Linked DNA regions of Homo sapiens: all the other regions are linked to region 1. The links come from fine-mapping of genetic effects on gene expression. A gene starts in region 1. Each other region holds a variant in brackets. All regions are shown on one strand. Distances are between the middles of the regions. Region 1 holds the start of DIRC3 (disrupted in renal carcinoma 3). Region 2 overlaps DIRC3-AS1 (DIRC3 antisense RNA 1). Region 3 overlaps TNS1 (tensin 1). Region 4 has its middle 21 kb from the start of DIRC3-AS1.

Evidence for each region. PIP is the estimated chance that this variant, and not a neighbour inherited with it, causes the effect. A credible set is the group of variants that fine-mapping cannot tell apart.
Region 2: its variant is the best candidate, but not a certain one, in a credible set for the expression of DIRC3 in testis (GTEx, PIP 0.52).
Region 3: its variant is the best candidate, but not a certain one, in a credible set for the expression of DIRC3 in tibial artery (GTEx, PIP 0.53).
Region 4: its variant is the best candidate, but not a certain one, in a credible set for the expression of DIRC3 in aorta (GTEx, PIP 0.83).

What each region holds. Positions count from the first base shown.
Region 1 is chr2:217,788,439-217,792,492 of GRCh38, reverse strand. DIRC3 (disrupted in renal carcinoma 3) reads left to right here and starts at 2,050. Exons shown (of 13, transcript NR_186301.1): 1 at 2,050-2,409.
Region 2 is chr2:217,282,962-217,287,015 of GRCh38, reverse strand. The region is part of intron 1 of DIRC3-AS1 (DIRC3 antisense RNA 1); the gene reads right to left. DIRC3 (disrupted in renal carcinoma 3) reads left to right here. Exons shown (of 13, transcript NR_186301.1): 13 at 2,153-2,997. Among named protein-coding and RNA genes, the nearest start is that of DIRC3-AS1, 2.3 kb to the right of the region's middle. The variant G/A (reference allele first, on the strand shown) is at 2,439.
Region 3 is chr2:217,804,636-217,808,689 of GRCh38, reverse strand. TNS1 (tensin 1) reads left to right here. Exons shown (of 33, transcript NM_001387777.1): 31 at 19-87; 32 at 583-615. Among named protein-coding and RNA genes, the nearest start is that of DIRC3, 16 kb to the right of the region's middle. The variant A/C (reference allele first, on the strand shown) is at 2,468.
Region 4 is chr2:217,259,852-217,263,905 of GRCh38, reverse strand. No RefSeq gene overlaps it. Among named protein-coding and RNA genes, the nearest start is that of DIRC3-AS1, 21 kb to the left of the region's middle. RefSeq lists an enhancer at 1,793-2,992. The variant T/C (reference allele first, on the strand shown) is at 2,448.

The DNA of each region.
Region 1 (4,054 bases):
GTGCTTTGTTAAATGCTATTTCATTCATTTTATAAAATGATTGTGGGAAATAGGCAGACAGCTAAGAAAATGAAAGCTCAGAAGGATTAAGTAGTTTGCTCCAAATCTCATAGCTGGAAAGTGCTATAGAAATGGACTGAAGATCTCTTGTTTTTGTTTTTTATAGAGACAGGGTCTTGCTCCATTGCCCAGGCTGGAGTGCAGTGGTGCAATCATAGCTCACTGCAGCTTTGTCCTCCTGGGCTCAAGAAATTGTCCCACCTCAGCCCCCTGAATAGCTGGGACTTACAGGTGTGTGTCACGATGCCCAGCTAATTTTTTCAATTTTTTTTTTTTTGTAGCAGAGATGAGGTCTTGCTAGGTTGCCCAGGCTGGTCTTGAACTCCCAAGCTCAAGTGATCCTCCTGCCTCAGCCTCCCAAAGTGTTGAGATTACAGGCGTGAGCCACTGTACCTGGCTTGAAGATCTCTTTAGCTCTGTATCAGTTAGAATATTAGTGCAGCTTCTATAACAAAGACTTTGAATTACCAAACACTTAAATGTGGCCATTTGTTTTTGTCTTACTTGTATTATAGCTCTCCCCTATGAAATTAGTCAGGACCCCAGGGCCCTTCAATTTGATCGCCCTGCCATCCTCAATATGTGGTCCATTATGGTTGCTCCAGCTCCTGCCATTACAACTGCATTCTAGTCAGTGAAAAGCAGGAAAAGAGGAAGGAGAGGGCGTGCCCTTCTCTTTAAGGATGTGGTACATTTACAGTATATACATTGTTTCTGCTCAGATCACAATAGCCAGAACTGTCACATGGCCTCAACTAGCTGCTGGGAAATGCCATTTTTATACCTTGCAGCCATGAGTACAGCCATACTTCTGGGGAGTTATTAGTAAAGGAGGAGAGGAGAGTGGGTATTGGGAACAACTGGAAATTTCTGATTCATACTCCAACATGTGCTGGAGGGAAAGATTTAAGAGTTATATTAGATACCATATGGGGAGGGGGTAGCTGAACAGCTTGAGTCCCCCTCTTTCATGGGAAGGGGGGGATGTGTAGGGATGGGTACCAGGGGCCATGTCAGTGTATTGAGATATCTTGACCACTTCCTCCAGTCATACTGCAGACTGGTCCAGGGATGAGTTCGTGACTCAAGTTGGGTCAGTTCAAATGCCCCCCTTGGACTGGAGAAAGAGAATGAGAAAGGGTCTGGGGTTGGGGTGGGTGGCTGCATGGAGTTCTCAACATTATCTCCAGGGAGGTGACTGCCTCTCTGCATGGCCTCTGTCCTCGTGCTTACTCCTCTGCAAGGTCAATCTGTCCATTCCCCTGTATCTCGGGCACAGAGGACAAGGCCTGAGGCTGCAGGGCAGAGCTTTCTATGCTCCATGTGTGGAGTCTAGAGACTGCAGAAAGAGCAGCTTAACTCACAGGGCCACCCAGACTAGACGGTGGACATCTCTGAGGACAACAGACTGGATGACCAGGTGGGCCTGTCTCCAGGCCTTGGTGCTATCTAAGCTCCAAGTGTTAGATACAACCTAAAGTTTCTTGCTAGTGCTGCAGAGAGGGTTGTGTGATGTAGAAAATAGAGACATAGGAATATTGCTGTGCCTTTGCAGGCTGTGAGTCATCCTGACACAGAGGTACTGTAGACAGAGGAGAGTCGTGGGTGGAAGCAGGGGAACATTGCTGTGTAAGGAGAAGGGAAGGAGAGGAGGAGAAGGTCCTGTGAAGAAGACAGAGGTCTCAGAGAGGAAGGAGGAGGACCTAGAAGGGGTGGTGTTTTGATGGGGAAAGGAGCTTTTCTTCTTTTCTAGAAGGAAAGAATGGCTGGTCAACAGTCCAGCCACCACCTTAGGATCAAAGTTAGTGAGCCCCAGAAGAAGGACACTGAATTTGGCCACAAAGAAATCATCCTTGTCCTTTTCTTTGGGAAAAGAGCGACAGCATCAGTAGGGGGCAGGAGGCTGAGGAAGTGGCTTAGCACAGCGTCAGGCTCATGAAAGTCTCACGAGATTTGTAGAGTTGGTGAACTGATGAGTGAATAGGAAGTAGAGACACAGCAAGTATAGACAGCTCGGAAGACCTTGACCCCCACCCACCCCAATCGACGTGTTTTCCTGGGCTTTACTCTTTGCTTCCGTTAGTCACTTTGGCCAAGGTTTCTCCTGCGTAGACGTCAGGATGGCGAGGACAGAGGCCAGGAAGGAAGGAGATGTGTCCCAGAAAGCTGAAGCCCCCTCCTGGGGCAGCCTTTTGGAAGGAGCTTCTGATACCTAACCTGGATCATTCCTGCTGCAGTATCAGCAGGTGTCAGCCGGGGAAGGAGAAGCCTTCTGTGAATGACAGTCCTTCAGATGACTAAAAACAGCTGAACTCTATCCCAAGCAGATATAAGAGAGGTGGAGATCAGGTGAGAGCCGCAGCTGGGTGGAATTCAGGGCAGCGTCAGCGTTCTGTGTGTGCCTGGTGCTGGGTTACAGCCGTCTCACTGCGCTTCCTCTTCTCCGATTCCTGCTCCAGGATCTCACCCTCCCCAGCCTCTAATAACCCCAAATCCTGGATTGGTGTTTGGGAGACCGTGGCTGGCCAGGTAAACAGGGCAGGCCGGGAGCAACAGCAGACACTGGAGGGAGGGAGTCGGGCCCTCCTCTGGATGAGTATTTGGGACCGGCAGGAAGGGCAGGTGGGGGAGGCTGAGTTCGAGGTTTCCCCCTTGGGGTCTCCTCTCTCCTGTTTCCAGTCTCCCCCGTCTCCCTTTTCAGCGCCTCCTCCCTTCCAGCCCATCCTGTCTGCATTTGCCCTCTGCCTTCCCTCCTCTCTGTCCCTCCGTTTCCCATCTCATCTGCCTTCTGTCTCCCAGGCAGCCTCCCCCAAGGCCCCACCCCGCTGAGGCACCTGTAGGCAGGGTTTCGGCAGGAGCTGCTGCCAGTGGTCCTCAGGGGAGGATGGACCTCCCTTTTCAAGAACTTCTGAAAACAGGAGGGGCCTAAACTTGGACTGGGGAGAGCTAAGGGAGGACTTTGGGATGTCCATACAGGCAGGGATTCTGTGACCCTTTGGTTTTCTTCTCCCCCGCCAGTTAAGGCAGAGCTGCCACGGGCTACGGCTCCCTCTAGTGGCCAACTTGGGAACCGCAGCCACTCATTGCCTTTCCTGGAAGCGGTCACAGTGGGCAGTAGGCTGAATCAACTGTCCAAGGGCCTGAGAGGCACAATTAATAGACAGCTGGAAGCCGAGAGTCTTCAGGTACTTAGAGACAGGCTGATTATTAAAAGCTTCAGTACAGCGGTGAGGACGGAGACCCACAGTCTCTGTTCCCATTATCAATCATCCCTCGTGGCGGATTGGACCTGGCCCAGATTTTCTCAATCATTTCTCAATGACCACCACTCAGGCAGTCAGCAGTGGCAGGAGCCAGAGAGCTCCAGGGCTCCAGGGTGTGGCTCAGCAGAAGGGGCACTGGACACAACGGGGCCTAGGCAAGATCCTTCCCCTCTCAAAACCCCCATGTCCCGTTCTTTGGGCCTTTGGGACCTGGGTGTCTCTGGGCTGCCCTCTCACAGCCCTGCATAGCCCATGCCCTAGTGCTTGCTCGCTGAGTCTGCAAGGCCAACCTGTCCATTCCCCTGCAGCCGGCCTGCTGCTTGGCAGGGCAGGTGAGCGCCTCTCCTGTGGCAGACGGTGCAGTGTTCAGCTCCACTGGACCTTTCGGGTGATTTGACCTCTGGAAGTTCTATTCCACTCACTCTTGCTTCTCCCCTTCCAAGTGACTACATTCCTAGAGGTTCTAGCACCTGCGGAGATGGAAACAGCTGCTCCCCATCCTCCGGGATCTGGGTCAGAGAACCTGAAATGCAGGCATCTTTATTTCCCAGACTCAGTTATTAGACTTCCCTCTTTTTCAGAGTCAATGACCCCCACAAAAAGAGTGAGCATGAACATCAACCTTTCTCCAAGGACACCCAGGCTCTGATTTCACTGAACTACCCCAAGTCTCTATGAACGTGGAACTGAATCTGACTGATTGAAAGTAAAATTAAAAAGTAAATAGTCCT
Region 2 (4,054 bases), 510 kb after region 1:
ATACATGTGCAATCTAAATAATAATTAATACTTGCCATTTGAAAAACTCTGCAACACAGGGTGATCTAATGCCCCAGTCTTCTCAGGACTGAGGGTTTCCTGGAATGCAAAACTTTCCATCTTAAAAGTGATAATAAAATATAACTGCAACATAACATATATATAATGTGTGTGCGTGTGTGTGTGTGTAAAACATAGGTAGAGATACGACAATAAAAGTATATAGGTGGAGATACATACATACATAGGTAGAGACAGGACAATAAAAGTCACCAGGTGACCAGACCGTAGGTAACCAGGTAATCAGACCATATATGAAACTGTACAAAACTCATGCCAGTTTGGAAAGCTTCATCTCACTCTGTCACTTGTCATGTGTTGGACCTTATATGTGTTGAGAAAGTACCCACCCATGTTCTCAGGTAGGGTAGTCCAGCGGGTTAACTGCACAAGGAGATGTACTTCTTGTGAGCCAACTTTGAGAAAGATGGATTGCAAATAACAAAGAATAGGACCCATTGTGCAGTGTCCAGCACCTGGACTCGTCCTCCCTGCCTGCACGCTACACCTTTTCTTCTTCTAGCCGGGATAGGGCAGAGTGGATTCTGTCCAAAAAGGAGAAAGCAGAGCCCCCAAGAGTAACAGTTCTCCATTCAGAGAAATAAATGTTTCTTAAAATTTTCTACACTGCCCCATTCAGAAGCTTTCCAAGGGGTGGGCTGATTCTCGCCCTTGTGGAAACAATCACTATGAAGGTTTAAGCGCAGGACTTAAAAAAAAAATCCCATTTCCAAATTGAATAGTTTGTCTTATAGGAGGGATTTTGTTTTCTTTTCATGCTGGACCTAAATTTGGCATCCTATGGAAGTTTTATTGCATGGCATTAACCAAGAACTCAGCCAAATCTCCCGAGTCAGGAATGGCAGCTGGGAAAAGTTGAATGAATGAGCTATTTTTTTCCTTCTTTCCTTCCCTTCACTCCATATGTTTTTCAATTTCTGGCTCATAAATTTAATTAAATAAATATTTTAAAATATGAAAGATGGAGAATGTGAGAACTTGATAAATATGAAACGAGCTTCTAAATCTATGAACACGGCATTTGTGGGGCTAGGCTCTATGTTTAGGTAAAGAGGTATTACGAAGCCTTTATAGGGAAGATGAATTAAGACTTGTCTAAAAGTGAAGAAGGATTTTGGTATCTAAACATGGGGAATGGGGAAGCCATGGGAATGTGGATAGCCCTGGGAGATAAGACTCTTATTATAAGCTCACAAGTGCATTTGTGGAAATGAAGATATTTCTGTCATCTATTTGTTGGATTAGCTTCACAGGAAGGCGGAGTGAGCAAACATGCATTGAATATTTACTTGGTGTTCCAGAGAGACATGTGTTGGCTCCAGCAGCAGCACCAGAGCACCAAAAATGAGGCTTTAGCTTATTTTGGAGATGGCTAAAACAAAGATTCAGGGCATGTCTCAAAGCGATGTTGAAGAGGGGAAATAAGGCTGGTGCTAAAGAAAAACTAACCTGATGCTAAAGAAAGAACTAACTAACTCATGTATTCTTTGACAAGATGTGCTCGGGCCAAAGAATAAAATTCTAAACAATCATTGGTTCTGTGGAGGGAGGCTTGCTTTTCATAGAGGCACAGGATAGCAATTCTGAAACTATTCTGTGTGAATTCTAGTATTGAGCAAATAAGTAAATATATTATAGAAGATGGCAGCCAGTGTTCACCTTATAAGAGAAGGTAGTTACAAACATGGTGAGGGGAAATGTTAGCAACACTTCAGTGGTGTTGGATTGGAATTGGAGCTTTCAGTGAGAACTCATGGCATATACTATCTAGATAGCTACAAAAAGAGATCGACCTATGTGGATATAAATATTGAGATGTATGTGGATGCAGGTGTGTGTGTGTGTGTGTGTGTGTGTGTGTGTACATAAATCTATTTCCTAGCTGTGTATTCTTAGAGGGCCTAAAACCAAGGAATTGCAGTGCAGCGAGACCACCTGGCTTCCCGATCTTGGTTTTTAAATACTATTCTCTACTAAAAGGAATTAGGGCTCTTTGAAAAAAAAATGACTGATTCTGTAGCTAAGGGAGAGAAAGTAAAAGATGAACCTGAAATATATTTTTTTTTTTCAGAAATTAAGAATGTTCCCAAAGAATGATGGAGACATTTCAAAAGGATACGGAAGCCAGATTGTGGGCGCTTCTACTGGCCAACTCTGGGACATCGTGGACATCAAAATAAATTTGTAATAATAAAGGATTATAGCCTATTAGTTAAATCAGAAAAATCTGATTTAACTAAATGAGTAGGAGGAAAAGAAAGCTCTTCCTTATATTAGAAAGTCAATTAATAAATGCAGAAAGGAATGAAAAAATTAGAAAAGCCACCATTTGGCAACCATGGCAGGCAGAATGGGGA[G/A]TATGCCTCCAGACAGTAATTCCTTTCAAACTGGTTTATAGGAACTCACTGAGCTTGCTGATCGACCTCTGAGAGGCAAAGTTTCTGAATTATGAAGTACTGATTATATAAACTTAGACAGAGACATGCTTCATTATTTAATAGGACTGTGTCAAAAGCCTACTATTAGGATGATGTGTTGGGTGTGGAACAGGGTCTCTTCCTGCCAGGAACACTGGTGATTTCACTCCGTGTTCAGGCTGATCTTTGAAGTTGAAGACAAGCAGAAGAATCCTTCTAAAATTTAGCCATGCCCATAGGCTGGGAGGGACACTGCTCCATTCAGAGGCAGCAAAGCACATTACTGTATCTCCTATAGAGCTTTGAGCAGTCCAGTGTACATGGAGAAACTTAGTAAATGTTGTTGAATTAGTGAATGAACAAATCAATGGACCAAGTCAGGGGTAAGTCTTACATTTGTCATCTAGGTGATTAAGAAAGGAAAAAGTATCTGTTTCAAGAGGATTACAATCTAACTGTACTCCAATAGTAAAATTTACTCTTTTGGAATCTGAAGACATTCATGAGTCTTTGCATCTTATTTCCTGAATTCTAACTTCCCTTGCCTTTATGAATGACAAAGAAGATGCATACAACCTTTGTAAATGCTTGCTGAATTTGAACATTATGTTGCTTTGTGATTGCCTCCACTTGGGATTCCAAATGACATCATGTGGATTCACTGGAGGCCTCGGGTAGCTGGGGAACTGAGGGGATAAGATGCACACATGGTACACAAGCACACGTACACCAACAACGTAAATAGACACGTAACTAGAAACAGCTGTGCAGAGCCATTTAGTAAAAGGTTGAGTAGCTGGAACCATCAGGAGTGCGTGGGAATGAGTTCAAGCTCCCCCCATGAGGCCTTCCTAAGGCTTTGCAGGAGGGCAAGAACAAGGTCTGGGAAGTGGGGAAATGGGATGGCTCAGTCTGTCCTTAGCATCTCGATCCTGGCTGACTCTCCACCACTCCTCACCCTTGCAAGATTACACACTTTGATTTATGTGACATTTAGGCAGAAAGCAGCCTAGAGCACTCTGGGGGTATTAACCCAGAAGACATACAAATCAGATTGGACCAAAGGGGAAAGAAGCCTCAGACATCCGCAGGGGAATAAGAAGGATATTGTATGCTACTTGACCTGATCTCTTTCCTACTCAGGAAAGTCAGTAGATAAATAATAAAATTGATAGTGCATGGAGAGTTGAGAGGCAAGACTTGCAGCATTGAAGTCTGAATTTCTGTCCTGAATATGATATTTGTACTCCCCCCAACTCCCTGGTCTCCAAAGGAATCTGGTCTGTCACTAAACAGCATCTTCTCAATCTCCTCCATGTCATAAAGTGGGAGAGTGGGGGTAGTGGAAAAGGCATGTCTTTATTTTGAAGATGAGAAATTTACATTCTTTTTCGTTAAAATAATCATTTCTAAGGGGTAATATATTGTAGGATCAGAGATTTCTAGGACTGGAAGGATCTTTTAGAAACCGTAGAACCTAAGCCCCTTATTATACAGAGGAGAAATCTGAAACATGGAAAAAGAGAATTTGCCTGATGTCTCAGAAAGACTAAGCA
Region 3 (4,054 bases), 16 kb before region 1:
CTGATGTCTGTGCTGCAGGCTCTTTTTCAGACGCCACTACCCTCTCAACACTGTCACCTTCTGTGACCTGGATCCACAGGAAAGAAAGTAAGTCTCTTGTACACAGCTTCTCTCCCACACAGCTTTCTAACACTGACGTCTGTGTGGGTGCATGCATGTGCATGTGTGTGTGTGTGTGTGTGCATGTGCATACATTCTCCATTCAGCTGGAAGGTCTGCCCATGTGTGAGTAATCGTGTTGGGCATCTTTTGAGTCTTTCCCACTATAGATATGGAGACCCTCCCAGGGACTCAGTGCCCACTGCTACCCCCTCTGCCATGCCCTGACCTTGAATCTGCTTCTCCTCTCCATGATGGGGAGAGCCCCTCAGGAGGCAGGCTGCAGTGTTCTCTCGACCTTGAATGCATCTGTGTGATCTTGGGCAGCTCCTGTCCCTGGGGAATGGGGGAATGGGGGAATGAGGGGGGAATGGGGGGCAGCTCCTCTCCCCAGACCTTCCTGCAGAGGGTCTGGGCATGGGTGGGGCTGGGCTCTAGGGAGAAAGTACGATGATTTACCCTGAGCCCACTTTCTCTCCACAGGTGGATGAAAACAGAGGGTGGTGCCCCTGCTAAGTAAGTGTGACTTCTTACCCCTGCCCAGCAGGCTGGCCTTTGTACTTCACAGTGAGGGAAGCACGGGGCACATTTAGAAACCAGGGCTGGGGGTAGGGAAAGAGCAGCAAAAACCTTTGTGCCAAGGTCACTCAGCTTCCGAGTGAAGCTTGACCAGGCTTCCAGGCCTTTTGCCTTGTCCTGCCTCGAGGCCAGAGGCCCAGCGTCTGGTCCAGCTGCCTTCACTCTCCCAGGGTTAGAAGCAGCAGGGATGGCAGGAAGTGGACAGAAAACAGTCTTATTAGAAGCAATGGAAATGGGTCAGAGATTGCTTACATGATCTTTTCTGCCCCAATTCTAGCTGCCTTTATTTCTGCTCTTGCTTTTTTGGTGGGCTTTCCTGTGAGTCTTGTGGCCGAGCAAATCAGCCTTATCAGAATGTGGGAGCCCAGAAAGTCTGAATTCTGGGGATGGCCCTGGGACCTTCGGGTGGATTCCTCCATCCAGCAGACATGTCCTAGGGGCCTCCAAGGGACTCAGATCCTGCCTGGGTCTCTGACCCTGCCCTCAGGAGGCCCATTGGCACAGCAGATAAGACAGATGTCTAAATAGCACTAAGATGCTTCTGTGATTTTCAAACTGTATTCCAAGGATCCTAGCATCCTTGGATTGTACCTGATGTACAGAAGAGAGGGAAAGCTCTGCTGCTCCTTGCAGTTGTCTATCAGCAGTAACTAGGGTTTTTTCACAATCACAAAACCAAACAAAATATAGGCATAACCTGGGGTCTGAAGCTGACATGAGACTATCACCATGATCTGTCATCTACTTTTCACTTTGTCAGGATTATTCCAACAGCCCTATTATCCTCACTGATTGACTTTATAATAGGTAAATGTCGTGCTTTTGGATTGCTGTTTATAGCTGTAAAATACTGCTTTCACCTTTATATATGCAGACTTCATATAAGGTTGCTTTAGAAAAACAAAACGTTCAGTGTTAAAAAAATGACAGTTGCAAGGGAGGGAGAGGCAGCAAGAGAGTTCAGCTTACGTCTGGGGAGCTCATGCAGGAGAACACATCAGCACCTCAGAGAGGTGGAAAGAGCAGATATTTAAGGACGGGTCTTCAAAGACAGGTTCAATTTGGACAGGTCAAAATGAGAATGGGAGTAGGAGGGGCTATTTCAGGGGAGGGGCCTCATGGCCACCAGCCTGCAAGCTCCCCAAGGGAAGGGCCATGTCTGACACATGGGGAGGTGGTATATATTTGTTGAGTGAAGAAATGAGAGAATGGAGGCTGGAAGAGCAGAGGCAGGAGGAGGCTAGTGAGAATGCCTCAGTCCGAATGAATGGACTGACTAGTCTATCACATGGTCAGTGATGGTAGCTTAGGAGAGGCCATGTGGGATGGTGGGGTTCAGCCTTGTCCAGGCTTCATAGGGTCATCAGTGCTTTGAGTTCCTGCATTTCCCGTGTCTCTGCTGGCCAAGGCAGCAGGCTGGAACTTCCTGTTTGAAGGGGCTTGTGCTCACTCACCACAGGGCCCTGCGAGGGAAGAAGGTCAGGGACAGAAGGGAACTGGGCCCCCAAGCCTGGAAATCCCTCTTTTCCTCCTTCAGGAGCTGGTTTTGAGTTGAGCCTCCTGCTGAAGAAGCTTTGATGGGTGGGGCAGAGGCCACAGGGAGAGGCCAAGCAGGGCAGTGGGCTAACAGGGAATCATGACAGGGACGAGGTGAGGCCAGCCAGGGATCTCATGTGCAAAATTCAAGGAGATGTTAGATCTTGGGATCTTGCAAGCGCTTCCTCCTGCCCTTGCGGGCTGAGGCTTCTTGCCTGGATCTATTCCTTGTGGCAGATGACAGGACTGGGCT[A/C]TTGCGGGAGCCTGGAAGCCACAGCTGAAAGAAATATCAGGGGAGGGCAGGCTCGGTGCTCCAGTCAGGTGCAGTTGCCGGGTCTCCATCCTGGTAGACACCCGCAGCCAGGGCTGGCATGCTTCCTCCCTCTGCCAGGATCACCCCCACCCCTGCTCATGGTCTGAGCCAGCTGGGAAAGGGAGGTGCTGGGGGATGCCCTGTGGACCCCAGCTCCCCCACCACCTGGGCATTACCCCAGGCCTTTGGCCCTGTTGCTCCTGGCCCCTGAAACAAGACTGGAGGAGCAGAGCTGTAGGAAATGCTGGATTATGTGTGTGTGTGTGTGTGTGTGTGTGGTGTGTGTATATGTTGTGTTTGCGTGTTGTGTGTGGTGTGTATATGTTGTGTATGTGTGTGGTCTGTATATGTATGTATGCATGGTTTGTGTGTGTGTGGTGTATGTGTGTGTGGTGGTGTGTGGTGTGTATGTGTGGTGGTATGTGTGGTGTGTGCAGTGGTGTGTGTGTGGTGTATGCATGTGGTGATGTGTGTGATGGTGTGTATGTGTGTGGTGATATGTGTGTTGTGTGTGTGTGATGTGTGTGGGTGTGATGGTGTGTATGTGTGTGGTGTGTGTGGTGTGTGGTGGTGTGTGTTGTGTGTGTGGTGTGTGTGGTGGTGTGTGTGGTGTGTGGTGGTGTGTGTGGTGTGTGTGGTGTGTGTGGTGTGTGTGGTGGTGTGTGTGGTGTGTGTGTGGTGTGTGTGGTGTGTGTGGTGGTGTGTGTGATGGTGTGTATGTGTGTGGTGCATGTGTGTGGTGGTTTGTACACACAGGCACACAGGGACCAGCAGAATCCCCCTTTGCTAACTTCAGCTGCCGTGGTCCTGCGGTAGGGAGAGGGGTTTTCATAGGAATCTCCAGCTGTCCTCATTTCCCCATCTCGCTCTAATTAGCAACATGCTGGCTGGGAGGGGACCTGAGCTCACATTCTGTTCTCTGCCCTCATATTTTTAACTCTGTTTTGCGAAGAGAATGCTGGGTCACTCCAGTCCTGCGGGTGGGGGTGGGGAACGGGTGTGGGGTCCACCTTCCCTTTTATTTTCTGGCTTCCAAGGTTCTTGAGCCCAGGAAGAATAAGTGTGTGTGTGTGGAGGGGTGTGAGCTACTTGACCTTTGTCTCCCTGACCTTGTGGTGTCTGAGGAGGCTGAGCCGTTTGCAGGCAGACAGCACTTTCCTGATTGGCATATGTGTTGTGTGTAAGAACAGTCAGTAGGGGTAGGGCTGGGATGGGCGGGGAGAGGCCTGTCTAGGAATGTTCCCATTTTATTTTGGTCTCCTCCCCACCCCTCACTATCCAGCCTTGTCAATCCTCTGCAGCTCCCCTCGCACCCCTTCAAAGGGGATTTCTGCCCACCCTTAAACAAGGTGGGACACTGTCTCTAGGACTTGGCTTGTGGTCAGGGGAGTGCACAGAGGATTCTCTTCTGCACCTCTCTGAGTCCCTGATGCTGAGGCCTGCTGGAGGGATGGGGAAGAGAGGTTGGCCTGAGACCAGCTTGCTCACCTGGGCTGCTGTCCACCTCCTGGGGTTCCACTTGCCCTT
Region 4 (4,054 bases), 530 kb after region 1:
GGCCATTTACTAAATCCAAACAGATAAACATTGTTTTAATGGTGATAAATGTGTCCACTCACCTTTGAACAAGGCATGCCTCCTACTCCTAGCCTCTCATGTCTGAAGCCCAGCATGAAGCAGTCGGTCTGGGTAAAAAAGGAGGAACATACTTGAATATCTTCTTGAGACATAACACCAATCCTCCAAGTTGTTCCACAGACCACCCCGATTATTCCTTACCCCACCATCCCATTTGAAAAAAACCCATTAATCTGGTAGTCTCTTTATTTCCCCTCAAAGGCAGCTCAACTTTAGAACAAAATGCTTAGGGGGAAAAAATACTTTCATTTAAAAACAGCAATACTCTCAAGTTTAGGAATTGAAGAAACTGAGATTATTGTTCCAAGTTCTTCCCTAGTCTCTGGGTCTTCCCTTGCAGTCCCTTTGTGCATATACATTTCACACAACTGTTCATGCAGGTCTGGAAGGGGGTCTTGCTGAGGATATTCATGGCAGTGGTATTTGCAGTAGTAGCAGGAGTTAGATTCAGGCAGCAAGCAACCCATCTGCAGGAAGTGGACAAGTAAAATGTGGTAAAAATATGCTATGGACACCATGCAATGATTAGAAGCATATCAGTTATCTATTGCTGTGTAACAAATTACTCCAAGTTTAACATCTTAAAATAACAAACATTTATTATATCATGGTCTCTATGGGCGAGGAGCCAGCATGGTGTAGCTGAGTCCTTTGGCTCAGGGTCTCTTACAATGCTGCAATCAAGTGTTGGCAAGAGCTATGGGTCCTCTCAAGTCTCTACTAGACTAGAATAGGATTTGCTTCCAAGCTCACCCACGAGGCTGTTGGCAGGATTCAATTCCTCACTGCTATTGGACTGAGGGCTTCAATTCCTTGCTGGCTGTTGGCTGGAAGCCTCTCTCCAGTCTTTGCTGTTAGGCTTTCTATAAGGTGGCTCTCAAAATTTCAGCTGGCTTCCACCAGAGTGAGCAAGGGAGGGCACAAGAGAAGAAGACAAAGGCTTTTTATAACTTAGTCTCAAAAGTAACATACTGTCACTTTTTGCCACATTCTGTTCACTAAGTGCAGGTCACTAAGTATAGTCCACAATCAAGGTAAGGTGATTGTACAGGGACATGGGTACCAACAGGGCACCATTATTGGGAGCCACCTTAAGAGCTGCCTACCACAAGAAACAACAGGTCAAAGGACCATGCAGCATTAAACACAATACTTAACAGAAAAAGGCAAGAGTTAGGGTGAAGTCTGCAGCAGAATACAATATGTTTAAATTAAAATACACAGGAACAATGTTATATGCTTTACAAAGATACAAACAAATTCAGAGTATAAAACAATCACATTGTAATGTTTGCCTGCTGGGCATGGAGAGCTGGTGGGGAAATGAGAATAAATAACCACATAAATCCAGAGAAGGGCCTTGTAGATACAGAATTAAATTGTGTACTATAAACTCAAGACCAAGTTCAACTCCTTGCACATGAGGTTCAAAAGAAAGGAAAAGTAAAGTAACAAAACACATACTCTGGGTCTCTCAAACACTCAAGTTCCCATGGAAGGATCTTATCAAGATCGATGTCTGAGGGAGCTCCCCACCCAATGTCACACTGGATTAAAGTCATCTCAAAGTCTCAGAGATTCTTACCGAGTAAAAGTAGCATCCGTGTTAGTGTGGCATACCTTGGGGTCTGTAAGACAGCTCTAAGAATTCAATGTACATAAGACATATCCACTTGGTGACCAAGTGTCTCAGGACTAAAGGCTTTCCTGAATGTGGGACTTTCAATGCTAAAACTTGGATAATTTGGTCACCTTATCACCTGAGGAGTTTGTCTACAAATGCAAATTGAAGCATCCTCACAAGTGATTCTGATTCAGTTTGCCTGAGCAGGACCAGTAATCCGCAGGCGAAGCAGAGCCAGAAGTCCTTCTAATATAGATGGTCCATGGACCACCCTTCTAGAATTCTCTGTTACAGAAGGGCAGTTTTGAAAGCTACTTCTGGTAGCACCAAAGGTGACAGCCACTCTCAAGTCTGTAATCACAAATCTCATGCAGCCAACTGCTGCAGTATCACCATTACCTGTTGATAATCCCAGGGCTCTAGTTCACAGTTCATTGATTCTAGTATTTCTCTTCCACAGAAGGCAGACCTCAAGATCCAGGAGGCAAAGTTCAGGAAGGGGTCAAGACAGGAGTTTGAGAAGCAAGATTTTCCTGACTGGCTGTTAGAAGAAACCACATCCCACGGCTGGATTAGCCATCTCCAGAAAAGTCTGGCGGAAGTTACCCACCCACACGACAATCTGAAGAATGTGCTTGTAAGATTAAAGTGATCTCTAGGTCTTCAGGAAGCAGCTGCGTCAAATGTAATCTCTGTAAAATATTTTTCATATTTAGAAAATATAAAAGGTTACACAAGTACA[T/C]TAACATGATAAAATAATGATGAGATAATGGCAAGTGTCTCTCAAATCTAGCTAGAGGAGGAGGGGAGTCCTGATGCTGACATCGAGGGGAGGGGATTTTGGGAAGGTGCAGATATATTAGGTAGACATACCACCATTAAAAGGGTGTGTCAAACCATAAAAGTTTGTAAAATATTCTTAGTAACCAATCAATAGTCCTCGCTCTATTTTTATAGTCACAGAGTAATCTTTTGATCTCCCATTATTCTTTGCTCTCTAAATACAGATTGAGTAACTTCTATGTGAGAGGTACTGTGAGAAATATTTGTATTTTGGTCTTAATTTTTTGTTGGATTTTAGGTTTTATGAAGGTAGACTCTAACTAGCAGAAGACGAATGCAAATAAAGCAGTATTTTCATGGTTTCAAAGAAGTCAGCTGTAGTGATAAGAGCAGTTATGGTTTTAGAGTCCTCCAGAAGCCAACCCGGAGACAAGAATCCAAGTAGTTTTGGGAAACGATCCCAGGAAATACATAAAAGAGAGTGGAGAGTAAGTTAGGGAAGGCAAAGGAGCTGACAGAAGGTATCTGCCAAGCCAATTACCATTGCGGGCAACTGATGTTACAGCCTGCTGGGGAAGTCTGGGAGACAATAAGAGATTCTATGCTGTCCACACTCTAGAATAGGGTTCAGAGTTATTCCTAACAAGGGGTATTCATCCACTGACTCTCCATTGGTCATTGTCTGAGTGTCGCTTCTTGGGAGACTGATTACATCTCAGAAACTTCTGCTCTGCCCTGTATGAGAGCTGAGCATGCTATCTTGACTACAGAGAGTCACGAATGTTTTCTATAAACAGGTTGAGAATGTAGAGACAAATACCAAGAGGATGTGGGTGGGCTAGCAACAGCATCTGCCATAATAGCTCGCAGTTGCTGCATGCTTACAGGGTTCCACGGACTAGATTAAATGTATATTATCTCATTTAATATCTGATTAATATTCTTGATTTTCCAGATAAGGAAACAGATGTGAAGTGAAAAGAGACTTGTATATGATCTCACAGTCAGCACATGGTGTGGCTGGGATTTGAACCTTGACAGCTGGGTTTTAGAATCCAAGATTTTAGCCACTATACTCTACTGGCCCCTTGAAGAGTTTGTATCTAGGTGAGGGAATAGAAAGAGATTTCAAGATGTGGGTGTAAAAACCAGCTGTTTCATGAAATATGAACCAGATTTCAGTTTGGGATTCAGCACTGGTATAGAAGTGCAGACATGCAATGAAGTTCAAGATTATAAAGGGTCCATTTTGGCTAAAATATAAATCATAGGTAGTGGAGGATATTGGAGAGGATTCTAAATGCCCAGTTAAGAAGCTCACACACAGTGGGCTTGACCCTAAGGAACTGTTGAGGCTTTTTAAGCAATGACATGATAGAAGATGGGCTTGAATAACATTAAAGAGTGTTAATAACATAAACCATATTATTATAAAATAACATTCAACAGGAAGCCATGAATTGGTTGGATTGATCAAAAAAGAGGGAAAGATGAAAGGGCATGTGAGAACTCAAGAGTTTCAGGACACTTGTCTCAGAGACCCGGAGTTACTGTGGCATGATAGGA